6 separate regions of the Homo sapiens genome follow, and all the other regions are reported to be linked to region 6. Evidence: microRNA targets listed by miRTarBase, many of them from high-throughput screens and not tested one by one. Region 6 holds a microRNA gene; each other region holds the end of a gene's coding sequence. Distances are between the middles of the regions.

Region 1 (5,169 bases), not on the chromosome of region 6:
CTGGGCTGTCCTCATCCTGGTCTTTTCAGTTGCTTGTCACATCTTTTTAAATCCTCCAACTCACTTCCTTTCTTTGAGGGTCCTTGTTCTCTGTCATCCTTCCTGTGCCTTCCATTCAGTTCACCTCAAGCTTCCAGTGTCTGAGTGTCATTCCAGCCAGCGGGCTCCATGCTGGGCAACTCAGTTTTCTCATGCCACAGCTTTTTACATTTCTGTGTATCAGCAAATTCCAAATTTGGGTGTCCTGGTTTTGTAACATGTAAGGACAAGGAGCTCAACATTCTTTAAAAACAAAGTAGCTTGAGAATAAGGATTCTAGGTGATTTGCACATGGTTGAGTGTGTCTTGCATCACCTGCTCGCAGAACATTAGGATGCCTGAAACACAAAACCACCAGTACATTCTGATTCTACCTTTTTAAAATGCTGCTGCAATTGAACAGTCATTAAAGAAAACCAGACCCAAATTAAAATTTCTGCCTGCAGCATTTTTGCCATGTTGTGGGAGTTTGTTTAAGCTACTCCCAGTCAATTTCAAATAAACAGTAGCAGAGTTCGTTTAAGACGACTGCCATTGCTAACACAGCTGAATGAAATCAGAGGTCTCTTTGTGGGCTCCCAGTAGATCCAGGCCCTGTAGGACCAGTTCACTTGTCCACTGTAGCTAAATAGATCATACAAAAGGGCCAAATGAACAGATCTACCAGATAGGAATATGATGAAGTGGCCTGTGGAGACCGCTGCCACAGTCACTGTGTCATGCCTTCTGTATACCCCAGCCCAATTCTAAAGGAGCTTTGCAAGCTGACTCATCTCACAGTATTGCTGTGTTTAATCATAATTGGTCTCTTCCCATTCATGTCACTGATCATTTGTGTTGAATTCTTTATTATTTTAAGTTATTCTGCATGAGCATAGAAAGTAGTTAATATTCACGAGTTGCCTGTGGTGTATACTTCATCTCACTTGAGTCTGTTGAGAAGTGTGTTTGGGGGAATCATCCACTGGTGACACTGCCGGTCTGAGTAACCCTGTCTCCCTTTCTCGGCTCTGAAGGAACTACCTTGTTCTGCACTAGCTCCATCCCTAGAGCCCTGCTTCTCCAGGCCCGAGAGACCAGCAAACCGTCGCCCTCCGTCCCGTTGGGCCCCACATTCCCCCACTGCCTCACAGCCTCAGTCACCCGGAGACCCGACGTCCTTGGAGGAGCATGGTGGCGAGGAGCCGCCCGAGGAGCAGCCACACCGAGATGCAAGCTTGCATGGATTATCACAGTATAATTCACTGTAATTTGCATAACCACACCATCACCATGAACAAAACTCTGCCCAACAGGAGAGATCTAGTTTTCTCAAGGTCAAAGAATGTTTTTTAAAAACACAAAGCTGCTGAATGTTCAACCTGTGAAACTGAGATGTTTCTAGAATGAAACAGTAAATGTGCCTGTAATAACTTAATTTTTTTCATAGCTCAGAAAACTATTTTTGTCTCCATCTTTTTTACACACAGTATATTAAACGAAAAGGTAAATAAGGTATAAATAGATTTAAAAAATAAAAGTTTTAAAAAATGTACATTTTAAGAGATTCTGAACACCCTCGCTGTCAATACCTGACTGCCTCTGTTAAATTTGCACTGTTACATTTTGGTTCAGTTTATTTCCATGTTGAATTAGAGTGGATTAAGTTAATTTTATTTTGTCAGTGTTACTGTTTTTTACGAATTTTTTAATGCTTCAGACTGTCTGATTCAGTGAACTTTTTGTAGTGAAAAAGCCATGAAGCCAGTAGACAAGACAGATATTCTGTATGCTGGAGGGGATACAGGATGATTTTGAAAAGGTACAAAGTCCTCAGTGGGCTTAGAAAATTCACTGTATGATCCTTATATTATCCTACTTGGCTTGCACGTCTTCGGGTGCATGTATATACCGCTACTGTGTCCTCGCCATCACCTAAATGTGACTCAGTCTGTTCCACTGTAATATGTTGTGAATTTCCTTGTACTGTACTTTTATTGTTGGTCTTCTTGCATCGATGATCCAACAGCAACACCATTTTTAAATTATTGTGAAAAGATTAACTGGCAATGTACAGAGTTTACTCAAAGTTTTCTTAAGGGAAAACACTACAAAAAGTCACAAGGATACCAAATGGAAACACATGATGATGCCTCTGGGTCTGTATGAGACCGTGATGAAGTAGAAATAAAGCCCTTCTGAGATGGCAGCATGTCTCGGTCTCTCATTTCACACACCCTCCATCTTTTCCTAAGGACTCAGATGGAAAGTTTTCCATAGCTAGGGGAATGAGGGAGAGAGGAGATCATGTAAAGAGGCAACAGCTGCTAATATATCTTGCTGGGAATGCACTCTTTGGGTACGTGATCATGTTGCAGTTTTACTGTTCCCCGTAAGAGAGTCCTAGGATAGAGAGACAGCTTTATTGTTGAAAAGCCAAAACTGTGGTGTGGGCAGGGATGTGAGGAAACTGGTTACCTACAAGTCAGAGTGTGCCCGGCCTCTCTGCCCGCTCTGCTCATTAGGAGAGAGGGAGTGGCCAATAACTCTAGAAGAGGCCTTTCCATCTCTGATCCTGAGATGAGCCCGCCTCTCAGTGTTTGGTGGAGTAGAAAGAAGTGATGCTACTGAAGAGCCCAAAAAGAATGATTTCAGGCTGAAGCTTCTGGCTTTAGTATTTCATTTAGTGCTTCATTAACCCAACAATTTTCTTCTTATATAGATGAGCTGCTAATGTAATAGGCTATCCTAGCATTACCACAGCTTCATCCTTAAACTGAAATATTTTCAAAAAATAAAAACCAACAAGTGTTGGCAAGGATGTGGAGAAATTGGAACCCTTGAGCACTGTTGGTGGGAAAGTAAAATGGCCCAGCTGCTGTGGAAGACAGTATGACTTCCTCAAAAAGTTAAACATAAAATTACCATAGGATCCAGGGATTCCACTTCTGGGTATACACCCAAAAGGACCAAAAGTAGGGACTCAAACAGGTGTTTGCACACCTATGTTCATAGCAGCATTATTCATAATAGCCAAAAGGTGGAAACACTTCAGTTGTCCATTGACAGATGAATGGATCAACAAAATGTGGTATATACATATAAAGGGATACTATTCAGCCCTAAAAAAGGTAAATTCTGACGTACTACAACATGGATGAACCTTGAGGACATTATTCTAAGTGAAATAAGCCAACCACAAAATGGCAATTATTGTTTGGTTCCATGTATCTCGTTTATATATCAAGAGTAGTCAGAGTCAAAGAGAGAAAGGAAAACAGTGGTTATCAAGGGTTGAGGAGGGAATGGGGAATTGGTGTGTAATGGGTACACAGTGTCAGTTCAGGATGATGAAAGAGTCCTGGAAATGGGCAGTGGTGATGGTGCACAGTGAATATACTTGATGCCACTGAGTTGTACACTTAAAAATGGTTAAAATGATAAATGGCCTATAGATTTTACCACAATAAAAACTTTTTTTTTTTTTTGAGGTGGAGTCTCACTCTGTTGCCCAGGCTGGAGTGCAGTGGCGCCATCTCGGCTCACTGCAAGCTCCGCCTCCCGGGTTCACGCCATTCTCCTGCCTCAGCCTCCCGAGTAGCTGGGACTACAGGCGCCAGCCACCACGCCCAGCTAATTTTTTGTATTTTTTTTTTTTTAGTAGAGACGGGGTTTCACTCTGTTAGCCAGGATAGTCTTGATCTCCTGACCTCGTGATCCACCTGCCTCCGCCTCCCAAAGTGCTGGGATTACAGGCGTGAGCCACCATGCCCAGCTTAAAAACTTTTTTTTGAGATGGAGTTTCGTTCTTGTTGCCCCAACTGGAGTGCAATGGCGTGATCTCAGTTCACCACAACCTCCGCCTTCTGGGTTCAAGAGATTCTCCTGCCTCAGCCTCCCAAGTAGCTGGGATTACAGGCATGTGCCACCACGCCCAGCTAATTTTGTATTTTTAGTAGAGATGGGGTTTCTCCATGTTGGTCAGGCTGGTCTCGAACTCCCGACCTCAGAGGATCTGTCTGCCTCGGCCTCCCAAAGTGCGGGGATTACAGGCATAAGCCACCGTGCCTGGCCAATAAAAACTTCCAATAAATGCAAAATATAAATATTTCACTTTATCACTCTAGATATACCTGCAAACAAACAATCAGCAGGTCAGTAAATATTCATTGCCTATTCTGTGCAGATTGCAAATGCTGAGAGGTACATTGGTATTCCTTCAATTGGAAGCAACCAGCCACCAACAAGAAGGGAAGTTGTGGCTGTCACGACTGAGAGCCTCAAACCGTGCCATCAGGACTTTGCTCAGTCTCCTAACTCTGTCTACTCTGTATGGCTTTATACTCAGACAAGCATCACAAAAATTGGCAACAATGGTCCCTAGCTGCTGCTATTAGTTTAGCAACTCCTAGAGAAAGGGGATCTCTTACCAGGAGCTCCAGTGAAAGCCCAGGACCGATGATTCTCATTTGGTAGGGATTAAGTCTCATGTCTGGCTCTGAGCCAATCGTGGTGACGGGAAGACCCAGCAAAGGAAAAGCAGGGTACGATTAGAATAGAGGGCGTCAGAAAGGCAGTAAAGGCGTATACCACTGTGGGACACCCCAAAATTGCAAGGAAAAAGCTCTGAGCACCACAGAACTTGCCAACTGGTTGGAAGAGATAACATTCCCAGGCACAATAACAATAAAATGAAAAATGGTGTGGTAGAAATTCTAAGTACAGTAGGGCTTGAGTTAGGCTTGGCAGTACGGGAAGCATTCCAATGTGCAGGAGGAGAAGCAAGTGGGAGGTGGGAGGAGCAGAGGTGTGAGGGGCAGTAATAGACACAGGTCGCATTGGGCAGTGATGCAGAAACCAGGCTGGGAGCAGAACTTTCATCAAAAAAGCCACATCTGGCAGCACCAGTGCCTTGAAAAGCCGTCTGGGAACTTCTTCTCACATCTTATTTTCTAAAAGTTGGACATGTGTATTCTTAAGTCTAGGGTGGAAGCACTCCAACTGTTAAAGGCCAGGCAAGACAGTAGGATGAAATCATTTTCCACACCACTGTCCAGATGAATGCCAAGGCTGCTATGTGGGTCACACATGGTGTGAAAGGGGAGCAGCTGCCTGAAGGGAATGGCTTCATGAGCTGCCATGAATGTGCCA
Region 2 (5,169 bases), not on the chromosome of region 6:
TTTTTTTTTTTTTTTTTTTTTGAGACGGAATCTCGCTCTGTTGCCCAGGCTGGAGTGCAATGGCGCAATCTCAGTTCACTGCAACCTCCGCCTCCTGGGTTCAAGCAATTCTCCTGCCTCAGCCTTCCAAGTAGCTGGGACTACAGGCGCGTGCCACCACGCCCAGCTAATTTTTGTATTTTTAGTAGAGACGGGGTTTCACCATGTTGGCCAGGATGGTCTTGATCTCTTGACCTCGTGATCCACGTGCCCAGCCCTATTTCACTTGTTGTAGGAAATGCACTGTTTGGCCCGGTAATGCACCAGGCTTGAATTGTTGGGTTTTGAGATCCTATGTGAACCACCATGCCATCCAGTAAAGGCAATCTGTAATCTCTACTGTTTGATAAGTACTTCCTGCCTCAACTGCTAGTACGACCAGACACTATTTCAGCTAAAACCCCAGCTCGAAGACCAAAGAAGTGGGTTGGCTTGTCTCTGACAGTCACGCTTTTGATTCTTTTACTTCCTTTGTGGACACAAGATGGTGGAGATGGCTCAGAAGTTGGGAGCTGCTCTCCAGGTTGGGGAGGCACTGGTCTGGACCAAACCAGTTAAAGATCCCAAATCAAAGCACCAGACCACTTCAACCAGCAAACCTGCCAGTTTCCAGCAGCCTCTGGGCTCTAATCAAGCTCTAGGACAGGCAATGTCTTCAGCAGCTGCATACAGGACGCTCCCCTCAGGTAGGACCATACAGAGCTCCATGAAGACCTGGCAGGTACAAGCCACATGTGTCTGTCAGCAGAGATTATAGCTTTCAGTGAGGTTCTCTTCAGACTCATATGTCCAACGTAGTATTGGCCACAAGGGGAGAAAAAAAACACAGGGTGGCTAAATTGGCACTTGTTTCCTTAAGGCGAGCTATGTAGTAGGTAACAGCTACTCACAGACTTAGTTGGATGGTCTATACACTGGTCTTTCCAATTTTAGCAATATGTTATTAAGTATATCCTGTTATGCAATGTTTAATTTTTACTGCTTTATCAGAAGTTGACACGTAAATATTTTTCAGTGACTCATTGAAGGCAAACTTGACTGTTGCTTTATTTCTCAGTTATAGTCTTCCCTTATAGTTAATGGGTCAGTCCCACTGGTTCCAGAAAATATGGGGTTTCCTCTTGAACTCTAACAGCAAAAAAGAATGATTTCTTCTGAAATTGTGGAACATGAGGATTCAAGTTTTTATTTTGTTACTAGGTGCTGGAGGAACATCCCAGTTCACAAAGCCCCCATCTCTTCCTCTGGAGCCAGAGCCTGCGGTGGAATCAAGTCCAACTGAAACATCAGAACAAATAAGAGAGAAATAAGAATAGAATGAATGACCCCAAAATAGGGTTTTCTTGGGCGAGGATGTGCTGGATTAGGAAAGGTGACATGACACAGGCAGAGCAGAGTGGCACCCACCACAGAATACAGTGTGTGTTATTACGAGGAGCCAGCAGTTGAGCCTAAGGTCCTTCTACCTACCTGGTATTGGCATTTGAGGTCGGAAACCCTCTACTGCCCCATAAGCCAGGAAAAGTGAAAAGAGAACACAGTTCCTTTAAGAACTGGCAGCAAGGCTTGAGGCCTTATGTATGTAGCTGAGTCAGCAAGGTACATGATGCTGTCTGCTTTCAAAAGGACTTTTCTCTCCTAGCTGACTGACTCCTTCCTTAGTTCAAGGAACAGCTGAGACAGACCTCTGCTGAGTAGCTCTGTGATGACAAAGCCTTGGTTTAACTGAGGTGATCCTCAGGTTGTGAGGTTTATTAGTCCCCAAGGCAAACACAAATATTAGATTAATAATCCAACTTTAATAGTATACATTTAAAAGAAAAAAAACAAAAGCCCTGGAAGTTGAGGCCAAGCCTGCTGAGTATTGCAGCTGCATTTGCCCAAAGGGAATCCAGAACAAGTCCCTCCCTGTATTTTGTTCTTGAGAGGGGTCAGTCTAGAAGCTAGATCCTATCAGGATGAGGAGCAGCAGCCCAGGGCTTGTCTGGATCAGCACCAACGATTTTAAAGAAAAAAGGAAGAGTTTCTTAGATGAGTAATTGTTATTGAAGATAGTCAGTGATAACCACTGACCAGATGCTATCAATACACTATGTGTCCTTTTTAGAATAAAGATTACATATCATCATTCCTTTGGGGAAAATTGTTATTCAGGTATAAAAACAAGAGATCATAATAAAAACCTAAAAGAACCTATGATCACGGTCTTCCCTTACCTGTGTCTAAGCCTATTTTGAAATTGGAGGAGGAACCTCAAGGCCAAGTTCCTGCTTGGTACAGGCATGGCCTCTGCAGCAACCCTGATGCATGATAAGCCAGCAATTTGCTTACTGAGGGCCAGTCCCCATTTTGCACTGAAAGTGCCCTTTAATCACCATAATTTAAAGATAGATAGATTAGATAGATGATAGATAGAAAACTGACCTACTACCAAACCGGTTGGAGTTCCTTATTTTATTACAGGGTCTGTTTTGACATTGAAGAAGCAGCTAACTGAGCAGGACCCCCTTCATTTCTTGTATCTCAAAAAGTATCAGAAGTGATGCCTTTGTCATTCAGCTGGTGGTATGTGGCAAACGTGGATTTGTACCCTGAACAATTGAGAACACTTCTACTTCAGCATGGAGTCTAGTATATTAGAATGAAATGGTCTAGTTACTTTCTGAAACTGGAAAAGTCTTAGTGAAAAAAGAGGAAGAGAGATTTAGGAGCTAATATCAACAGGAATTGGGGATTGATTGGATGTGGCAGGTTAATAATTGGGTACCCATTTCAGGGCTTAGATAACCAGGGAGAGTAAAGGAATATTGGACTAGGGTTGAGGGTTGGTTGTGGAATCTAGTTTTAGATGTTTAAGATATCTAATGATGATATCCATCAGATACCTGAATAGCTAGATTTCAGGAATGAAACCTGGTTTGAAGATAAAGATTCAGGAGTAGGCCAGATACGGTGGCTCACACGTGTAATCCCAGCACTTTGGGAGGCCAAAGCCAGAGGATCACTTGAACCCAGGAGTTGGAGACTGGCCTGGGCAAGATGGCTCAGACCTCATGTCTACAAAAAATTAAAAAGCCAGGCGCAGTTGTGCGCACCTATAGTTTCAGCTATTTGGGAGACTGAGGCAAGAGGATCACTTGAGCCTAGGAATTTGAGGTGGCAGTAAGCTATGATCATGCCACTGCACTCCAGCCTGGGAAACAAAGCAAGACCCCATCTCAAAAAAAAATTTTTTAAGATTCAGGAGTAATTTAGATTTGAGGAATCATCAAAACCATAGTTTTGAAAGGAGTCATCCACGGAAAGCTAGGAATAAGACGACAGGCAACCAAATGAAAGAAAATAAGTATTTAGAGGGAGAAGCAGAAGAGCCCACAAAAAAGCATATGATACAAGAAAAAACCCAGGAGAGTGGTATTATGGGAAGCCAACGAAGAAAGGTTTGGGAAGAGAATGGTCAGCCTCATTGAACACTTCCAACAGAGAGGTACTGTTATCCCCATTTTATAGAAGAGAAAGCTTAGGTTAGGAGAGACAAAACAAATTTTCAAAGGTAAGTGGCAGGACCAGGATTTTAATCCAGGTCTGGATGCAGAGCTCTTGCTCTTAACCATCAATCATCAAGCAGTGATGTATCTTTGATGAAGCAGTGGTGGCAACAGAAACTTAAGGACTTGAAGACTGAATGAGTAGATATTGGACTACTTTTATTTCAGAAAGCTTTGATGTAGAGGGAAGAGGTTTTCAGAGGACAGAACTGTATTCATTACTCTGATATGAGAAACTTCTAATATTTGGGGAGAGAAGGGTAAAAAGGTAGTCTTTTTTAAGTATAGCATGGTGGAAACAGAGAATGCAAGAGTAGAGTTTTTGAGTTTTTCCACATTTGGGGGCAAGATGGTGCTTTGCTTCCAGGGATAGCAGTAAAGAAGCAATGCTTTCCACATTAATTTGACTTAGATTTTCTTTTAAAAATAAACTCTACTAGGGTGTGCAGGGTCAGTCTTTTGGGCATGTGAATTTGCAATTTTTCTTTTACTCTGGTGAGATAGGAGCTATTCTAACTTCTAGTATGGGGGTTGGTTGCTCATGTCATCAGAATTTGTAACAGAATTAGGAAAATGAAACCAAGAACATAATCACAGCTACGGATGTGGTTTTAGAAAACTGAAAGAGAGAGGCAGGAAAGTAGAAGTATGAACTAGCAATGAGAAAAAAGTATCCTTCTTGCTGAATAATATTGGGCAAAACTGTGCATTCCAAAGACAGTAAACCACTTTGGAGTGTGTCACTACAATGATTTTTGTTTTCAAGGAAAACTCATTATTGTCTGATAATGGCTTAGTAGTTCATGTCGGACCAATCCTTCCATAAATAACAAATGTAAACAAGTGGTAAATATAAAATACTCTCTCGGTTTAACTTTAAAAAAATACATATGATTGTTCAAAGAAAAAATATCACAGTGTATGTGAGGCTGAACATACATAAATAACATGACAACTATAAAGCATATATGGTTGCAAGGTTTTAATATTTTATGTAGTGGGACACAAAATTAATCCTAAATAGTTTGTGAAAAGCTGAACATGGTCCTAGCCAGAGCAATCAGACAAGAGAAAGAAAGGGCATCCAGATCAGTAAAGAAGAAGTAAAACTGTCGCTGTTTGCTGATGACATGATCGTATACCTAGAAAACCTTAAAGACTCATCCAAAAAGCTCCTAGAACTGGTAAATCAATTCAGCAAAGTTTCAGGATACAAAAGTAAAGTAAAGTACATAAATCAGTAGCCCTGCTATATGCCAACAGCAACCAAGCTGAGAAATCAAGAACCCAACCCCTTTTACAATAGCTGCAAAAAAACAAAAAACAAACAAAAAAACAACTTAGGAATATACTGAACCAAGGAAGTAAAAGACCTCTACAAGGAAAACTACAAAACATCACTGAAAGAAATCATAGATGACGCAAACAAATGGAAATACATCCCATGCTCATGTATGGGTAGAATCGATATTGTGAAAATGACCATACTGCCAAAAGCAATCTAGAGGTTCAGTGCAATTCCCATCAAAATACCAAAATCATTCTTCACAGAATTAGAAAAAACAATCCTAAAATTCATATG
Region 3 (5,169 bases), 4.7 Mb from region 6:
TCCACCAGGAAGATCACAGTCTAGCAGAGATAAGAGGAAGAAGGCAAACTGAACTGTACTCCACTGTAGAGAGTGCAGTAATAGAGCATGGATCTGAAGAGGTGTGATTCATTTTCCTTAGGTGTCTGCCTCTGCTTTTCATTTAAAAAAAAAAAAACTCAGCTTCTATTTCTAACACAAACTTTCACCTCCTATGGCTTAAATAGATGTCATAAAAATTTAGGATTTATATAGGGAATGTACACACTTAAGTCAGCAAAAACTAAATTAATTTTGCCCTATATTGTGCTGGTGAACCATGATATACCTTATAATCTTGTCAAAAAGAAAAGTTGTAGCTGTGTTCACAGGAAAAAAAAAAAAAGAAAAACACATGGCCTGTCAGCCTTTTGCCTAAGATCAATTGGAGTATCTTTTCTTATCAGTTTAATATCTGTTATGTCCTCTATCTAAGGACAATATATTAAATGGATTTTTGGAGCAGGGAGATAGAATAGGCTCTTGCTCCATTAACTTCACACATCGACCTGGTATTGCAAATACCTCCAGAAATAGTGTACCCCTACCAAGAAAAAAAAAACACATTAACATGTTCTTTTATCTCACAGAATTGAGCATTTATTCCCTGTCAGGTAAGAAATATATTAGGTGAAAGTGGCCTTTCAGATTACTAATAATAAAGCTAAACAGTTATTAAAACTAATAAACTATTAAACCAATTATTAATAAACAATTATTAAAATTAACAACTAATTATTAAAACTAAATTATTAGGAATAATTTTTAGAATTGTTTATAAAAGAAGTGAAAAATAATGAAAAAAATATGAACTAATGATATATTACCTATTATAGTACTTAATATAGTGGACCCTCAATATATGTGGAATTAAATGGGGTAAATAATAGATGCATGTTTTAGAATATGAAAATGAAATACCATTTTTGTGTAGCTTTTCAAATTCTTTCTCTGCATTTCCTTGAGCTTCTAAGTAAAACCTTTTAAATGTTGAAAATTCTATAGGGAGCATTTTAGTGGTGTTTCTGTGTTATACATTATAAGTTGCTGAAGTATTAAAGGTTGTATTTAAAATGTGTATACTCTGACTTTGAGAAATAGTTTCACTCAGTTACCCATGTATCTGGTGGTCTAGTGGCTAGGAAAAGAAATAATTTATTTTTTTGAAAGGATGATTACTCACATAAACACTTGGATTTTGCTTTCTGTACCAACATGAAAACTAATGAATTCACTGTTGCATTTCTCTTGTAGGTGGTAGGCTATGCTTTTGACCAGGTAGATGATCATTTACAGACTCCCTACCATGAAACAGTCTACTCCTTGTTGGATACACTCAGCCCCGCCTACCGAGAAGCATTTGGAAACGCACTGCTTCAAAGACTGGAAGCTTTGAAAAGAGATGGACAGTCATGACTACACTTTTTCCTTTCAGAGGGGCTGGTGCTGGTACAGAATGTTGATATAAAGCTTAAAATTCTTGCATATGGTCATAGAAAATGCATCTTTGGTTTTGTGTTTTTATCACTTGCTTCCAACTTAGGCTTTTGGCTCAGAAGATTATTGAATAATGATTTGTCTTAGTTTCTGTTTCAGTAAGGGAATTCTGAGGCCGTTGCTATGATACCATCATTAAGACATTCACATGTCTTCATATAATATCTCTTCATTTCAAATCCTAATCACTATTTCATACTATTACAGGGCTTTGATGCTGCCAGCACTGTCTTTTACATAGGAAATTCTAGATTTGCACAGTAATAGAGGAATTAGAAGTACCTAACTATACACTTTGATTCAGCCTGCTAAATCAGGGGTTCAATACTAGCTTGGACAAACTTTGTAGTAATTAATTGCTACCAGCCTTATTGGAAACAAATTATCAACTAGTTTCCCCTGCACAAATTTTGAAATTCACTGCTTCACTTAATCTATTTATATTACTAATAATGGATTAATAAAGATGAATTAATTATATATTACTTAACTAGTATTAAATGAAAAACAGGGACTGAAATAGTTCTGTATTCCGTGTTTGCAACAGCCAGCCAACTAAGCAGAGGATAAACCGTTAGCAAATGAATGTAATAATTACTCATTTCCAAGATATCTAAGCACATAAGCAAATACAGGAACAGACTTCATTCTTTTTCTTAACAAAAAAGCATCTTCAGTGTGTGATTTAAAAGAAAGAAGATTCTGGTTTCCTAGAAAACAATATTTTGGCCTGTGTTGATTCTTATTCTGAATGTGTGTTTACATAATGTACAGTATATATTCAGAAAGTATTTTTGCTTCAACGTTTACTTTCTATGATGTAGTGCTTTGGTATTCCTACAGCACCCCACCTTCCCCAACAGATGTACAGTGTTCTGTCTCCATTCGAAATCTACAATGTAATATGAGTGCATTGTATGGGTTTGAAACCAAAGGATGAATGAAGCATTCAGAGACTTAATATTTGAAAAAGGAATAGTCAGTATTTTATATTTTATTACAGGTACTGATATTTATAAATTTAATAAACTGTACCATGCTGCTGCATGTTTTCAAGTACATGTTGAACAGTAAGGATTGGGGAGTTGTTTTTTAATGGTCACCTAAAGCAGCTGCTATAGAAATGTTGAACTAAAATTTTGCATCTGGTCATACCTTCATGCATTTATCATTTGCAGATATTTTTCCATCATTATTAAAAAACAGGAACTTTTAGGCTCTGAAGATCATGTGGACCAGAGCAAATTAAAGTTCAGTTTGTGTCACAATTCATTGCCAGACTTCATTGGAATGCTTTGTTTGATGATGTATGTTCATTCTCAGCTTTATTTTCAGATGCTTAACTGGGCAACGAAGTCTAACTTCAGGTTGAACTTTCTCATGTTTAATCTCAGGCTAAATGTAAATGATATTTGTAAAGTTTGAATAAAATTCTGTTTACTCATTTTGAGTTAGTATGAAAAAAAGTGATTGTATGTTTAAGAATTGAAATTGTTCATTTTGTGATAAATGATTAATTCCAAGAGCTTGTTTCCATTTTTTAATTCTGCATTGTTACATTTGGATTTGAAATGACTGAAGTGAGCTTTCTCTTGTTACTACTATGAAAGAGCAATGAGGAACAAGAGGAGAGGACATTAATAAAACTACACAGATATACATGAGAATCTAGATATTAAAACCTCCATTTTACCTGGTCTGTTTAAAGAACTTAACCAGCAGATAGGCCAGGTGTCGTGGCTCACACTTGCAATTCCAGTGGTTTGGGAGGCCCAGGCAGGAGGATCACTTGAGGCCAGGAGTGCAAGACAGCCTGCGCAACATAGATCCCATTTCTACAAAAAATTATAAAAGCATGGCCTGGTGACACATGCCTGCAGTCCTAGCTATTAGGAAAGCTGAAGCATGAAGATTGCTTGAGCCCAGGAATTGGAGACTGCAGTGAGCTACAATCGTGCTGCTGCGCTCCAGCCTGGATGACAGAACAAGACCCTGTCTCTTAAAAAAAAAAAAAAAAAATGAAAATTATAAAACTTAACCAGATAAATTAAGCCTTGATTTCACTTCTAAAGGAAAAAGAAAAAAAAAACTTTTATATAAATAACTTTTACAAATCAGTAGGAAGAAAAAATGCAAACAGTGGGCAAATAATATGGTCAACTCAGAAAAAAAAATAGATGTCAGTAACTACTTGAAAGAGGCCCAACCCAACCATTAACTCAAGAAAGAGAAATTTTAAGTTATTGGGTCATTTCACCTGCTACTTTTGTGATTCTTCTTATTTAAACTTAATACCAGTAAGGATTTAATGAGGAAGCACTCTTACATTCTATTGGAGGGTATATTGTTGAAATCTTTCTGGAAACATTGGTAATAAATCCTTTACAAGTTTATAACTTCTGAATTGGTAATATACTAGCAACCTAGCATAGGGAAATGATTCAGCAAAAAAACTAGTATATAAGGATGTTCATTTCCCCTAATGAAAAATTGGGAAGGCTCTAAAGAGTGGTAAAGTGATGCTACATCTTTTGATGGAAAAATATGCAACCACTAAAAATCATGAAAAAATGGCAATGAGAATTATGCTACACAAAAAAGGATATAAAACTATACATACTTTTTTGAAAAATAATTGTATATGTAACAAAAAAAGATTATAGGCTGTTAGTAGTCATCACTAGGTGATAAAATAGATAATTTTCATTTCCTTAATACTTTTTCACATTTTATACATTAGCTTGTATGTACTAATTAGAAGCAGGAAATGCAATAGATGTGGGGTTTAAGCTACCTAGAGGCTGTCTAGCAAAAGCACCAATCCTTGCTGAGTTGTATCTGCTCCCAGATCCTTGAAGAGGGCAGAATGATTATGAAGAGAAGAGTGCACACCTCATTTCCCATGATGACACTCTTCCCACCTTTCCTCCAGGTTCGGCTGCTACTAATGTACTTACAATCATTAGCTTCTTCTATTGCACACTGTGCTGTTCTCTCCCCGGTGTTCAAAAACAGAATGTGCTGTTTGAATGTTGAGGAACATAGTAAGAAAACACTGAGATTCTGATAGGTGCCACATTGACTTCAGAACTTTCTTTCCAATCCCTTTATTTTCTGGATGATACAGGTGAGATAGACAGATTGAGCGACTTGCTCAGCAACTGCTTGTGAGCAGTGTAGTTGGATCAGAACCTAGGTCTTCTGACTCCGCCAGCTGTCCCCATACAGTACGTGTTAATAAAAACCATCACATTAATTTTGTGTTTATACGAAAACTGATTTTAAAAGAGGGAAAGAATAACAAACATGTTAGTTGGTATACTAGAATTAGTAGAATCTCTGGCCTGGGTGTGGTGGCTCACACCTGTAATCCCAGCACTTTGGGAGGTTGAGGTGGGTGGGTCACCTGAGATCAGAAGTTTGAGACCAGCCTGGCCAACATGGTGAAACCATCTCTACTAAAAATGCAAAAATTAACTGGGTGTGGTGGCACACACCTGTAATCCCAACTCCTGGGGAGGCTGAGGCAGGAGAATTGCTTGAACCCGGGAGGCAGAGGTTGCAGTGAGCCAAGATTGCCCCCTGCACTCCAGCCTGGGCGACGAGTGAGACTCAATGTCAAAAAAAAAAAAAAATAGAATCCCCTTTTTTAAC
Region 4 (5,088 bases), not on the chromosome of region 6:
AACATGTAACAACAAGTTGAATATCAACTTAATTTCAGTAGTATACAAACACTCTGCTCCTATACATCTCCATCTCTCTCACTTTATATTGTTCTTGTCATAGATATATTTTTATATATTGTGTGACCATTAAAATAGATTCACTTTTATGCACTTGCCTTTTTAATTATACAGGAAAGAGTGGAGTTACAAACTAAAAGTACAGTAATACTGGCTTTTATACTTACCTATAAAATTACATTTACCTGTGTTATTTCTTTATATGACTTCAAGTTACTATCTATTGTCTTTTCTTTGCAGCCTGATGTACTCCCTTTATTTCTCGTAAGAAAGTTCTACTAATAACAAACTTCATTAGGTTTTGTTTATCCGGGAATGTCTTAATTTCGCCTTCATTCTTGAAGGGTAGTTTTGCTAGATATAACATTATTTAACCTTTTAAAGAAATTACTTATTTCCAGCATTATAAATACATCGTTTTACTCCCTTCCAGCAAGTTATGTCTGTTCTATTCCTTCTAGAACCAAGGGTCAGGTCCCACACTGGGCACCCAAGCTGCCATTTTTAAGACTGCCATGCCACTGAACCACAGAGAAGACAGGAGCCAAGGTAAGTCAAAGCCACAAAGCTTTCCTAACAATAAGTTGCCTTTTTCTTGATTTAACATTCACATAGTTGCTGTAAACTTTTGACTGTTTTCCAGAGTCTGACAAAGTTGGTTCTGACAGTTTCTGGTTGTTTTCTTCTCTTTCCATGGAGGGATGGGAGTCTGGAGCTGCCTATTTGTCATTTTTCTGTTGTTACTCTCCTAGTTGTGAAATGCAGGACAAATCACCTCCTCTCTGTATCTATTTTATTCTTAATCAAACAGCACAACTCCAAAAATGTCATAGGGATGTGGTGAGGAGGCTATAGAGATTTTAAAAAATAGTGTGCAAAAAAGTTTAACTTCACATATTTTGTTGATCTTCCTTTCTACCTAAAAAAATATACTTCATCTTTAACCACCAGCCTGAATAGTTCTCTCACATCAGTAGGAGAAAAACAGTGGCTTTATTTCGACATTTTATTGAACTTTTCATATTACACAATTTACCCAAAACATTTAAAGTAACAGTAAGACAAACTTAAAAAAAAAAAAGTCATACAGACAAAACATCTCTAGGTGAGGCAATATGTAAATTTCATTGTCAAATCATGATTTTGTTACTCTGCTATACAACTTGGTACCATATCAATGATACTAAATGACTCAAGAGTAAGACATTATGCATTCCGTTTATATGAGAAAAAGAGATTATTTACAACTACTTGAAAGAGAAACAGAAATGCCAACAACAGTATCATTCAAATTCTAGTGCAATGTCAATTGTTACCAAGAGATCTTATTTGCTTATATAAATTTTGCAAATAATTCAAACCTGGCTATCTTATTAGAAGCTGACAAAGTATGCTTTTCTGTTGCAAAAGATCAGTGGACAAAAATCCTCCACAACCTCAGCTGATAAAACAAATTTAAGCAGCATTTTTTTTTTCCATTTCCTGAACAGATGTACTAATACTTAGGTAGAAACACTAAAGCATTTGTACTCAATCAATAAAGTGAATGCTTTGTGCAGTTTTAACAAAGCTGCTGCTAAAAAGACAGTTGTGAGTGGTCAGGTATATCTGCAATAGTAAGCAAGTTCTTACCTTTCCAGTTCTGTATGCTTCTGAAAACACCAGCTAAGGTATTAAATACCCATTTTCAAGTGACCTTGTTTTTACTATTTCATATTTATGACATCTAGTGCTGAGATTCTGGGGGCTTTAATAGATAACCTTATTAACCCAGATAATTTTTTTTGGAGCCCATAAAATAAAATTGAGAATGGCATTTCGGGAAGGTCTACATATATGTATTTAGTAAGTTAATTCGTAAGTTCACTTTACATAGTAAATTAATATTTACCAGTTTTTAATTGCTTTCAGTGTACTTGACTCAAATTAAGAAACCCTACAATGTAAGGCAAGTGTATCACAAGCTCCATGGCCAAAATTTGGCTTATATAAGAGGACCAGTGGGCCTGTGGAACATTTAATAGAATCTTTTCCATAATGCTATTAGTTCTACTGAATTAAAAAATATTATTTTGAGCTGTTATTATCTTAAGAAGTATAGCCCATGGATATTTGATTTGGCACCCATGTTAAAGAAAAATAACAATTTTTAAAAGGGAACGAGCGTATCTTACAGTTATCTCACTCATTCTTTTCAAAATTCAGTGCAACATATTTGGCTAGCTTAAATTTAAGTGCGTGACCGTTCAAGATTTTGTTTCAACTAATTTGGAGTGGTTGTAAAAAATTATTCATATTTTACTTTCTACATTTCAATTTTAATGTTAATTTGTATTCTCTTTCTCCAAAAAGGAAAACAAGATCAACCTTATTTGTGTATGGTTCAGCCTATCAGTCTTATAATTATTCTACAATAAAATGAATTTATGTAACTAACTATTTTCATGCTAACTTCCAAAAAATATCCTGAAATATTTAATTTTTAGCTAAACAAAGGATCCTACAGATTTTCACTAGTAAATACTTGATTCTATTCAGATTCTTTTCTAGAAATTTTTCAAACTTGAAATTTTCTGGTTTACTCTTATCTGAAACTATCCTAATTGAAAACAATTTAAATGCTATTGGTTGGACAAAGTAAACCTTAATCTAAAATAGTCACCATAAAATATAAAATGTGATCAGTGGTGTTTAATTTTATTTTCCCCCTTTTGGTGGAATTTAAAAATGGAAAATGTAGGTGTTTCAGTAACTACACACACACACACACGAGAGATTTGCTACTTATTACTGTTTTTACACTTTTTGGATATCACTTTTTTGTTCCAACACTACTATTTGCAAAAAGTAACCATTTCTGTGACATTTAGCAAGTAAAATGAATTTCTATTCGTATGCATTCTTGGTTGGACAATATCAGTGCAAAGTCACTGTGCTTCAGAGCGCTAAATGGTTCATGATACAACTGTGATTATTCACGTGAAGACATGAAACTTTAAAATGTCTAATGATAGAGCAGACACATATCATTTTACTACACAAAGTGCTTAACCCACCAAATTACATTTAGGAATAGACAAAATGTTTTTATTAAACTGATTAGTAATTTTTTTGCTTATTATATGTTGAAATGTACAAATGTACTTTTTCCCCTCACCCATAAAATACAAGGGCACATTTCCTTTAAGGTTTGGATTTTTCTTCAGTATTCATCTAAAGAAGTTTAAATAAAAGGTGATAAGAATAATTGCTTTTCCCTCCACGTACATCTATTTTGGAAAACAAAATTTAAAGCAAAACCTGAAAGAAAATAAAAACGGAAGCCATTATTTAGTGGTGACTATATACTAGACAAGAGGCACAAATTCCCAGATGAATTTTAATTTTGTTTCCTCTCAGACAAGCCATTCAGAAATAAAAGGGAAATGAGGTTCATTTAAGTACACAATTTGTAAATGTGGAAACAGTAGTAATTGTCATGATTATTTTATATTCTCTCTTAACAGTGGCTCTAAAAACAGCCCAATGATTCACACAACTAGCAAAGCAAACCAAACTCTATAAATGTATGAGAAATTAAGTTGCTAGCACTGAAACACTGGGTTTGGATATGGACAAGGATGTTGTCTCTGACTTGTATCTTTTGGGTACCTTGGTTTTTGATATTTTGATGTTCAAGCAGAAAGCGCGTGACTTTGTTTTATGCAATAAGGTGATGTAAGTGTAGAAAATGTGTAGGGATGAAGGAAATTCCAAGTTACATGTGTATACATAAATGGCTTTATAAAATACATATATATAGCCATTAAGATAGTTACATAGGGACAATGCAATTTAAAACATTTATACTCCTGCTTACAGATTGCCAAGTCTAATCATCCCTTAAGTCTTTTTCAATAATGACATAATTTATTTGCTTAAAGGTAAAAACCTCCTGATTGTATTAAGGACATTAATATACTACACTGTATTAAGGATACTATACCAACATCAATCTAGGAGGTAAAATAAACGTTTGGCAAATATTGAAGTCAGATGGAATAGATTCAACTCTATAAAGTTTTGTTTTAGATTTTATAATAAAATTTTGCTTCTGCCTACGATCATGTTTACTTCAGCATGAGTGCTACACTAACTAGAATTTAATAAGTGTTATTTTTATTGAGTTTTCAAATTTGGAAGGATTTTGATCCAAAATATATACCTATGCCTTAAAAAACAAAGTCAAGATAATCAGTATGGGCTTTAGTACCAATTTTACTTTCCAATCCATTTTCTTCCCCAGTATTTCACTTGTATCCCTCATAACTTCATAGCAAATTATCCAGATTATATCTTCCAGACTACTCAGTGAAGGAACCTAAATCTCAAATGTTATTTTGAAGAAGTGTAGAGTAAATAATTTTGGTAATCTGTAAAACAGCTGCATGCAGTGTGTACTGTATTATAACAGCACCAAACCCTTTATAAAAACCAAACACTCCTTCCTCCTGCCTTATGGTATTGATACAGTCTCTCATTCCCTCATATTGTGTATTAATTGGAAGCACTTCATAGCCAAGGTCTGTATTGTCAATTATTGTGCGTGTTCCTTGAATGTGAAGGCGGTGCAAAACTGTTTCCAATGGGTAAAGTATAACGTCAGAACAAAGACTGGCAGCAAAGTTAGCAATAAGTTCTGGAAAATAAGCATCCAACATACTCTGCACAGGGCTAGTGCTCTCAGCTAGGTGGCTATTGTAAGTCTTTCTCTTTAGAATTAGTAGGACAAACTTCTGAATAACTGAGCTGATGATGTAATGAAGAACTCCATGAAGCACCGTAGGGAAGATCAAGGAAAGAAGCGGAAGAAGTCGTTTGCTATGAGGCACTCCCATGCCTATCACTCTTCCAATTCCTTCTTTAACACACTCCAAAATGCCAGTATTATCTCGAATTATCTCACTCTGAAATAAAAATGATGAAATAAGTAAAACTTAACATTTGCTTATTTTGCCACAGAAAAAGGACTCTTTTTAGGTTCCTTTT
Region 5 (4,000 bases), not on the chromosome of region 6:
CCTCTCTTAAAGGAATATTCTTCTCTCAGCCTATTATCCAGCTTTGCCAAGGATCTTCTGCACTAAAGAGATGGACTAACGTAATGACTAGGGTTAGTATCTCTTTCACAAGGCCTGCCTCTCTTAATCCAAAATTGGAAAACTTGGGAGTGTCTAGTATTTTCCATAGATACTATTCAACTAATTACTCAGTACAACTCTGTGCTTGTTACTACGGTCACCATTTTAAAGGAGAAAAACTACTTCAAAAAATGGATTTATAAGCCGAAATTTCCTCAAGGTCACACATTGCATTATTTCCAAAGCAATGTTCATCCTGAGGTTGGTTGTTTCCTTGGTCGCCCAGGTTGGAGTGCAGTGGCACGATCTCGGCTTACCGCAACTTCTGCCTCCTGTGTTCAAGCGTTTCTCCTGCCTCAGCCTCCCGAGTAGCTGTGATAACAGGCACGTGCCACCATGCCTAGCTAAATTTTGTATTGTTAGGCTGGGCGCGGTGGCTTATGCCTGTAATCCCAGCACTTTGGGAGGCAAAGGCTGGTGGATCACAAGGTCAGGAGATGGAGACCATCTTGGGTAACACGGTGACACCCCGTCTCTACTAAAAATACAAAAACTTAAGCCGGGTGTGTTGACACGCGCCTGTATTCCCAGCTACTCGGGAGGCTGAGGCAGGAGAATCGCTTGAACCCAGAAGGTGGAGGTTGCAGTGAGCTGAGATCGAGCCATTGCACTCCAGCCTGGGCGACAGAGCGAGACTCTGTCTCAAAACAAAAAAAATTTGTATTCTTAGTAGAGACGGGGTTTCACTGTGTTGGCCAGGCTGGTCTCAAACTCTTGACCTCATGATCCACCCGCCTCCGCCTCCCAGTGTTCACATATACAGGCATAAGGCACCACGTCCAGCCCGAGGTTGTTATTTAGATATACCTAGTGGCTTTATCAGAAAAAGCAAAACAGTTCATCCACTGTAAAAAAAAATAGAAACTTCTGTAGCTTCTCAACTGGCTAAATTCCAGATGATTTTCTAACCACTCATCAACAATCTATATAGCTTGCCCTCCACAAAACTTACTAGTTTGATGATAAAAAGCTTCTGTAATGAGGCAGTTGTCCATCTCACCTGCCCAGGCCACGCAGACCCTGGAGTTACTAACCCGCATTGCCCATTAAGCATTTCTTAAACAGAACTTTCAAAGATGGTAGTAATTATTATAAAGATAAAAGAAAACTAGATGAACACTTTGGAACACTGACAGGCAGGAGGAAATTAAGGACATTACCAGATTAGTTACAGATTTTCGAACCAGTGGGATGCTGACTCAGGAACTGATTGGACATAAACAGTTTCACTCAGAATGAGCTGTTTTCTATGCACGACACTATTCAAGTTACTACACTCCAACCACATTTCCTCTGAACATTATTTACACACCAAATTTCACTCTGGTAGCAACTAAATTTTGGCACAGATGAGATTAACCACTAAAGGCCACATTTGCTGGTCCAGTTCCCTAGAAAGCAATGACACAACAAATTTGTTAGGAAGACTTGGTTCAAGGGGAAAAACTGATAGCAGGAGATACTTTGGAAAAAGAGCACACTGACAGAGTGTCTCTGCCCCAAAGAACTCTGCAGTCTGGTATTGAAAAGTAAATTTTCAATGAGGCTGGGCGCGGTGGCTCATGCCTGTAATCCCGGCACTTTGGGAGGCCAAGGCGGACAGATCACTTGAGGTCAGTGTGAGACCAGCCGGGCTAACACCGTCTCTGCTAAAAATACAAAAATTAGCTGGGCACGGTGGTGCGCACCTGTCCCAGCTCTTCAGGAGACTGAGGTGGGAGAATTGCTTGAACCTGGGAGATGGAGCTGAGATCACATCACTGCACTCCAGCCTGGGCCAAAGAGCAAGACTCCATCTCAAAAAGAAAAAGAAATTGAACCTTGGGAGTTTCCATACAAATTAAATCACTAGAACAATTATTGGGATAAATGTCAAACAAAACGACTGATATGAAATTCTGAATAAGCCTGTAAAACTTGTGCTTCAATGCTAACAAAAAAAAAAGTTGAACAAATGAGGTAAGGAACTCAGTATTTGAAGATAAGCTAGGAGCAGCATTTCCTACTCAAAAGATTTACCAAGAGATAAACAGTTGAAGAGAATTGAGTATAAATGGTGACAGCTTGCTTCCCAACTAGTATGAAAGCTCAAAACCCCTTAATACAGTAATATATGCACCTTATTTAATATATTAATATATAAATCAATTTTGGAAACCAGTTTGAAGTTAAGCCATTTTGTTAAGTATGTATTGTAAATGGTGAAAATTTCTTCATAAATATGCCCAGACAATGCAGGAGACCAAGAATGCCCAGGTTTTAAGGCCAGGCTGTTTCCTTTTCTTTTTGGTAAACCCCTCAGTTTTGATACATTCTTCTAAAATACACAGGGCTAGACTCTAATAGAATAAAGGAATTCATGGGGGACAACGTGAGGGCAAGTTTCCGCAGACTCGGAACATTTTCCCAAGAGGCAAGTACTGAATTGAGACTAAAAGAAGCTAATTCTGTTCTCAAATTTCTGTAACTTTAAAACATTTGAAAAATGAAGATCTCCTGTGGCCTTTTTAAGAGACTTTTATTTGAGTGGTTCTTACAAAGATTGTTGCAATATGAAAGTCATTTGTTTGATAGAAATATCAAGCTGTCTTGTCAAACACACTGAAGTAACCCAAAAATATATTTCAGAGCTCACAGAGCTTAAAAAGAGCAAAGATTATATGCAACCAGACAAAACCTATTTCTGCATTTCCTATTTCTTTCTCAGACTGCTTTGCCTACCAGACTCTCACGTTTAAACATCTTCAGGAAATGCAGGGATCATTTTGTTTGGAATTTTAAGACACACCAGAACACATAGTATTTACAAAGAAACTTTTACAGATACATTAATTGAAAAGATACCATCAAGAAATATAATTTTGAAATCTCCCTTTCTTGCCAATTGATCAGAATGCAAGATGAGATGCTAACCAAACAGCCCTTTAGCTGTCTTGTATTTCCATACACTAAATGTGTATTTCAGAAACTGCTCAACCATCAGCCAAATATCAACATTAGTGAAATGTGAAATGTAACCACTGTGTAAAAAGTTAGGCTTCTGAAACATTAAAAACATTACATCCCTGGTCTGCCTTTTTACAGAAAGCACATTTGTTCTCCTAGAGCTATTCCTATAGTTCATTAATTTTCTACATGAACATTTTAAAAGGCAGAACAAGAGAACAGTTTTGTATACAGTGGGATTTACTATTTAGGGAGAATGAGCACACTGCATTCCTGTTAACATTTTTATTTTTTCAAGGTAACAGGAAATTGCATACAAATGACAGTAGATCCTTGCCTCTTTATTTTTATCTAAATAAAAGATAACTCAAGATGAATTCTCAAGAAAGAAAAAAAGCTATATACATAAGGGACTATATCTTCCTTCATCGTCTACTTGGAACCAGTAGCTGTGTTGCTGTCATAGAATCAGGAAACAGGTTGTGGTAAGTTGGAAGAGGTACATATGCTGCTGTTATCATTTTACCTATTAAAAGAAACAGACATGTTGGGTTTAGCATCTTCATTATAGAGCCTTAATAACAATCAGTCAAAAAATAAATTCAAACTCACCAGCAAACCACCTGCCATGCAATGCATTGACAGCAGCAATAGCTGCAGCAATTGATGGGCACTTCACATACACATTGCCCTACAGAAAAAATGAAAAAAAAGGTAAAGATGTTGCTGTATGCAAAATGGACCCAAGTTATGTTTATTCAAGTTGCCTGTAGAAACTTAGTGCTCTATAACCACAAACTGGTTTACCATAATGGTTCCACTGGCTAATAGGTATACTAGAATTTTATTAAAAAATGACTTCTACTCTCAAATTTGCCGTTTTATCTTTTCTCTACGATTTGTATGCAGCCTAAGAATGAATCAAGATGCCAAG
Region 6 (5,169 bases):
CCCACCCAAGGTATGTATGTGAACGGGCCATCGCAGTGCACTAGCTTCTTCATGTGCCACAGCCATGACCAGAATCGAATCTCTGAGGAAGATGGTTACTTCTAAGGCTGTGATTTTCTGGAAGGGGCTTTGGTGTCTGCACTACATTATTGGGGGAAGTTGACCAGTGAGAGGCCCATTCACACAAGACGTCTGTCACCTGCTCCAAGTGACCCTCACCCTTGGTAAGATGAATCTCTGGAGACATGCTGGCTCGGTAGTGTTACTGTCATCAGCCGGACTGACTGATAGGTAATTGGTCATCATTATTGCTTTTGTTCCAGGGCAGAATTTTTGAGTGCCAAATCTTGCCAGGGAAGGGTTTCTGGAAGCAGCACCGCCCTCTGGGGAGACTTGGCATCCACATCTGTTGGAGTTTGTGGAGAGTTAGTTGAGCAGTCTGAGCTTTGTTTCTGAGGCGTCTCCCTGAGCTCACTCTCCTGCCAGAGCTGTGTCCTGCCCATGGCCATAATGGCTATTGAGAGGGTTGGTGACTTTGGCCACCATGATTTTGTTTCGATAAAGTTCTCTCTTTTTAAAAAAATCAGATTCTTTTGTTTATAGCATAACTACATGGTTCATGAGTTGATCAAATAACAAGGAATGACTTGGTCATTCCATAAATAGTGATGGAGTGCACACTGTGTTCTAGGTGATTCTGGACCTTAGCAGAGAGCAGTGAATGAAATCAAGTTCTTGCTCATGTGGACTTTACATTCTGGTGGAAGAGACGGATGAGAACACATGAATTAGGAAGCGTAATTTTGTCCACTGCTAGGTTTTATGGGGAAAGGGAAAGCGGGTTACAGTGACAGAAAGAGGTAAAAGCAGGTGGACCTTTGTGTTAAATACAGGGGTCTGGAAAGCTCTCTCTGAGGATGTGGGTGGGAATGGAGTGGGGTGGACCAGAGGAAGGTCTGGGGTAGGAGCATTTCAGGAGGAGGGCAAGGCCCATGGAAAGCCCCCTGGCATCTTTAAGAAAAAGCAAGAAGGCCAGTGGGATTGAACCGAGCTGCTGGGAGTCGCTGGGTCTGAGCTGGGAGAGGCAGGACTCCAGGTTTTATTCTGAGTGAGATGGGGGATTTGGAAGGGTTGTGAGCAGGGGGGATGCGTGGTCTGTGTTGGAAAGATCACTCTGACCACAAGGGCATTGATAGAGAATCTACCCAGGGCAGTGATGGGGAACCTACCAGGAGCCTGGCGTGCCTGAGCTGGGCAGTTTCTCTAGGGGCACCTGCAGTGGCAAAAGGGGGCCCCCTCTGGACCTCCCTAGTTCAGTGGGCCCTGCGGGAGCCTGGCTGGCACCTTGATGTGCTTGATGGATAACTCAGTGTGCTCTGTTGAGAAGTCCAAGGCCCTGTTCAGAAACCCTGGGGTCTACACACTGCGGAGTGCTCCTGGCGTGTGACAAGTGGCTTCCCTCTTCTTATTTCTAAACCTTGTGCGTGTGGATTCAGGACCACAATTTCAACTCCAGGGAAGGGGGACTGTGCCAGCACCACTCCAAGGGAGGTGAGTGAAGGGTTGCCCAAACTCCAGTGTGTTCCTAGGACACCCGTAAGCTGCCTCACTAATGCTCGGTGTCCACTCTGTCCACAGGATGGTGGTTGGCAGCCACTCCCCTTGGAGAAGTGGAAGGGGACTCCTTGTCTGTCTTGTCTCTGCTTTTCTGTGGTACTTGAAGAGAAGTTGTTCGTGGTGGATTCGCTTTACTTATGACGAATCATTCACGGACAACACTTTTTTCAGTACCAAATGCTACCTCTAAGGACTTCCTGGACACAATGGCAGCTTCAGGAAAGATAGTCTTTGTGTCAACCATGTGGAAAAGCCAAGAATGGATGGCGGGCCATGGACAATGCGCTGACCTAGCTGTAAGTCACCTGGCCCGATAATCCGAGCCTCCCATGCACCTATAGGAGGTCTTCCCATGGGTCTCACCAACTCTGGGGAATCAGCTGTGGTTCTGTCACCAGCGTCACCTCACAAGACTTTGAAGAGAGGCTCCCTGGGCCCCAGGCCGACTTCCAGAAGAGATGTTGGTGTCAGCACCGTCCAGGGTGTGTGACTGGTTGACCAGAGGGGCATGCACTGTGTTCACCCTGTGGGCCACCTAGTCACCAACCCTCAGCATCACTCCCACTCCAGGAAGACTTTCCAGAGCTCCCACCAACTCTGGGGAAGCGGCCATGGACTTGCTGTGACTGCTTGGTGGACTGCGATGACACGTGCTCTTGGGGGTGTATGTTTACTTAAAATGCAATGAGTCAGCCTTGGCAGCCCCTTCACCACTGTGACAGCCTCCTTGAAGTGTTGACTTCCGATGTGGGACGCCATGTTGTCTTCTGTTGAGGGACCTGATGTGGGCCAGCTTTTCTCCTGGGTGTGTGACTGAATCCTTCTTCCCAGAGCATGTGCTGCCTTTGTTAGGTCTGTCACGTCGTCCTCTAATACCCAGCATCCTGTCTCTCCCTAGGAGGCTCCATGGAGATAATGCGGCTTTGGGAAGCGGCCATGATTCTCCTGTCAGGGACCAGTGAGCTACGCAAAAGCTCCCTGTCTTGTCTGGAAGGACGAACTGCATCCTTGCTGCTGGGGAGAAGGCAGTGCCCTCAGCACTCCCTTAAGGTAAGTGCGCCTCGGGTGAGCATGCACTTAATGTGGGTGTATGTCACTCGGCTCGGCCCACTACCCAATACTATCCCACCCATTCCTAACAGGACTCCCGAGAAGGGCGGCCACCTCTGCCAGAGAGGCAATGGATTTCTCACCAGTGTTCATGTGTGGTACTTGGAGAGAGGCTGGCCGTGATGAATTCGATTCATCAAAGCGAGTCATACACGGCTCTCCTCTCTTTTAGTGTCAAATTCTGCCTCGGAGGGCTTCCTGAGCCAGTGCTGCTTCCAAGGTAGGTTTCTGGATGGCTGACCCCATGGCAAGCATTTTCCTGAGGATGCATGTAACTGACCTACTAACTTTAGAGTCCAAGCTGACCCTAAAACAACTTCCTGGGGCACTACCAACTTTAGGAAAATCGAGAGAGGTTGTTGGGATGCCCTAATTTTTTAAAAGTTAAGATTGAAATACACATGGCTGACTTCTTTTTTTATTCCTATCAAATTCAACCTTGGAGTTGAATCTTGGGCATCTAGAAGCATCTTTTATTAGTCAGCCGTCGGGATACAGAAGAAAACAGGAACAGGACTCTGTGCGACCCCTGGTTTACTAACCCACAGCAGCCTTACACCCTCCAGAGAATTCCTGTAAGGGAATCCCAGGTTTACCAAGGAGGCAGTGCTTAGCCTGCTTTTGCACACACATTTGTGTGTGGTTTGCTTCATATTTAATGACTCCTGTGCCACTGACATCCTTGCATTATTAAATGTTGCCTGCATGGCCAGCTGAGCACAAGAAGTGGTATTTCTGTGCACACTAATCCTGGCTTGGTGAACCTGGGGTTGGCCGGAGAGCATGGGTTTGAGCCACCTGGTCCACTCATCCTCAGGGTCCCATCCACCCTCAGAGGCCACTCCCAAGCTGCCCAGGCTGTGCAGAAGATGCAGGAATGCTGCGAGCAGTGCCACCTCATGGTACTCGGAGGGAGGTTGTCCGTGGTGAGTTCGCATTATTTAATGATGCCCAATACACGGTCGACCTCTTTTCGGTATCAGATCTCACCAGGTGTCTTCTTGGACCTGATGCCGATTTAGGGGACACCATACTCATGTTGGTTCCACACCAGTGCAACTGAACATGTGTGTGGCCCTGGAACCAATGGGTAGGTGCTGCTAGCACTCCTAATCCTCAGCCAGTGCATTCCTGGGGAAGAAGCATGTGATCTGTGCTCAAGACCCCTCTGTGACTGAGGAAGTGGTGGTGCCCATGATGCTTCTGGGGTTTTGTGTTTTTTTTTAAAGAAAAACAATGTATAGTTCTCTTCTCTTTCACTATTAAATCTTACCATGGAGGAAGGACTTCTTAGACATGTTGACAAATTCAGGGAAGGGGCGTTGATTTCAGCATTCTTGGGGACTCACTGGAAGGGTGACTCACCACATCTGTTGATCTGGAGGCCACAGCAAATTTAAGAACAGAAGACAGTTGCATTTTCAATTTCTTGTTTTTCTTTTCAAAAAGGATAATTATTCTACCTTATTACCATATTTATGAAAATGACACATGCTTAATAAAATTCAAGCGATGTGGAAAAATCTAAATGAAAAAGAAGGAAAATTGCCCAATTCTCTGGCACCCAGAAATAACCATTAAGGGCTTTAGAAATTTCATACACCTGTCTGAGCATACATGCAAATAGAAAAACAAGACAGACGCAGGGAAAATATGAGATCACACTGTACCTAATCATTTTATTAAAAATGCTAACTATAATTTTCCTTGAATTTATCATAAAAAACAAGCTAAAGGAGATTGAAATGATTGATAAATGTTTCTCGCTTTACCACCACAGGTAGCAACTCCTAAAAGATCCCTGTAAAATTAAGAAAAATTAGAGTGTAAAAATTAAGTGGTTAGGATTGTTATGGTTTTTAACTATTTCAATTTCACTCCTAGTTCAGAAAGATAAAGAAGTCAGCATTCTTATTCTTCCTTTGCTTACTATCTCCTGCTTTTTCTCAATTATACATTTTAATTTTACATTATAAATATCTGCAATTTGTTCTAGAACTATAATTCTTGCAGGTGTTTTGCCATAGTTCTATATTTAAATGAATTCATTTCTGACCACAAGGTTTGTTTTTTTTTAACTGAGGTTTCTCCGTTCTTTAGTTTTTAAGTTTAATTTATCTCTCAATGGAAATGATCTTATTGTTTCTGTGAGAATAGCTCATAGACACTACCCTTGAGTTCCTGTGCATTTGAGAGTATATATCTCTTTATGCACAAGGGACAGCTTAACTAGGTATAAAAGTCTCAGCCTACTTGTTTTTTCTCAGAAATTTATAGCTATTGTCCACTGTTTTTTGCATTGAGGCTTTCACTAGCTGTCTTAATGTGGCTTCTCCATGTAGCTCTTACTTACCTGGACTATTTTATCTAGCGATCTTCACAAACCTTGTTGGAAAGACTTTGAGGTACTATGTTCTGTGAGGTATTTCGTCTCTGAGAATG

The links. Region 6 holds the annotated microRNA hsa-miR-382-5p (GAAGUUGUUCGUGGUGGAUUCG, at 1,725-1,746, shown strand). A microRNA usually pairs through its seed, bases 2 to 8, with sites in the 3' UTR of a target mRNA and lowers its output. Matches are read on the target gene's strand: a 7mer-m8 pairs with bases 2 to 8, a 7mer-A1 pairs with bases 2 to 7 and ends in A, and an 8mer does both.
Region 1: the mRNA of MTCL1 is a reported target of hsa-miR-382-5p. The part of its 3' UTR that is shown has no 7-base or 8-base seed match.
Region 2: the mRNA of BBS4 is a reported target of hsa-miR-382-5p. The part of its 3' UTR that is shown has no 7-base or 8-base seed match.
Region 3: the mRNA of GSKIP is a reported target of hsa-miR-382-5p. Seed matches in the 3' UTR shown: 7mer-A1 at 1,554-1,560.
Region 4: miRTarBase lists SLC25A46 as a target of hsa-miR-382-5p. Seed matches in the 3' UTR shown: 7mer-A1 at 3,638-3,644.
Region 5: the mRNA of RBM39 is a reported target of hsa-miR-382-5p. The part of its 3' UTR that is shown has no 7-base or 8-base seed match.

What each region holds. Positions count from the first base shown.
Region 1 is chr18:8,830,552-8,835,720 of GRCh38, forward strand. MTCL1 (microtubule crosslinking factor 1) reads left to right here. Exons shown (of 15, transcript NM_001395333.1): 15 at 1,056-2,227. The coding sequence ends at 1,289. Among named protein-coding and RNA genes, the nearest start is that of GACAT2, 130 kb to the left of the region's middle. RefSeq lists an enhancer at 1-435.
Region 2 is chr15:72,736,239-72,741,407 of GRCh38, forward strand. BBS4 (Bardet-Biedl syndrome 4) reads left to right here. Exons shown (of 16, transcript NM_033028.5): 15 at 524-725; 16 at 1,240-2,235. The coding sequence ends at 1,349. Among named protein-coding and RNA genes, the nearest start is that of ADPGK-AS1, 44 kb to the right of the region's middle.
Region 3 is chr14:96,384,251-96,389,419 of GRCh38, forward strand. It overlaps GSKIP (GSK3B interacting protein), which reads left to right. Exons shown (of 4, transcript NM_016472.5): 4 at 1,273-3,038. The coding sequence ends at 1,434. It also overlaps the pseudogene RNU2-33P. Among named protein-coding and RNA genes, the nearest start is that of AK7, 5.3 kb to the right of the region's middle.
Region 4 is chr5:110,761,122-110,766,209 of GRCh38, reverse strand. It overlaps SLC25A46 (solute carrier family 25 member 46), which reads right to left. Exons shown (of 8, transcript NM_138773.4): 8 at 1,053-5,006. The coding sequence ends at 4,428. Among named protein-coding and RNA genes, the nearest start is that of SLC25A46, 25 kb to the right of the region's middle.
Region 5 is chr20:35,700,990-35,704,989 of GRCh38, forward strand. RBM39 (RNA binding motif protein 39) reads right to left here. Exons shown (of 17, transcript NM_184234.3): 16 at 3,679-3,757; 17 at 358-3,592. The coding sequence ends at 3,492. Among named protein-coding and RNA genes, the nearest start is that of ROMO1, 3.6 kb to the left of the region's middle.
Region 6 is chr14:101,052,592-101,057,760 of GRCh38, forward strand. MIR382 (microRNA 382) reads left to right here and starts at 1,715; the gene lies at 1,715-1,790. It overlaps MIR134 (microRNA 134), which reads left to right and starts at 2,096; the gene lies at 2,096-2,168. It overlaps MIR668 (microRNA 668), which reads left to right and starts at 2,667; the gene lies at 2,667-2,732. MIR485 (microRNA 485) reads left to right here and starts at 2,828; the gene lies at 2,828-2,900. It also overlaps MIR323B.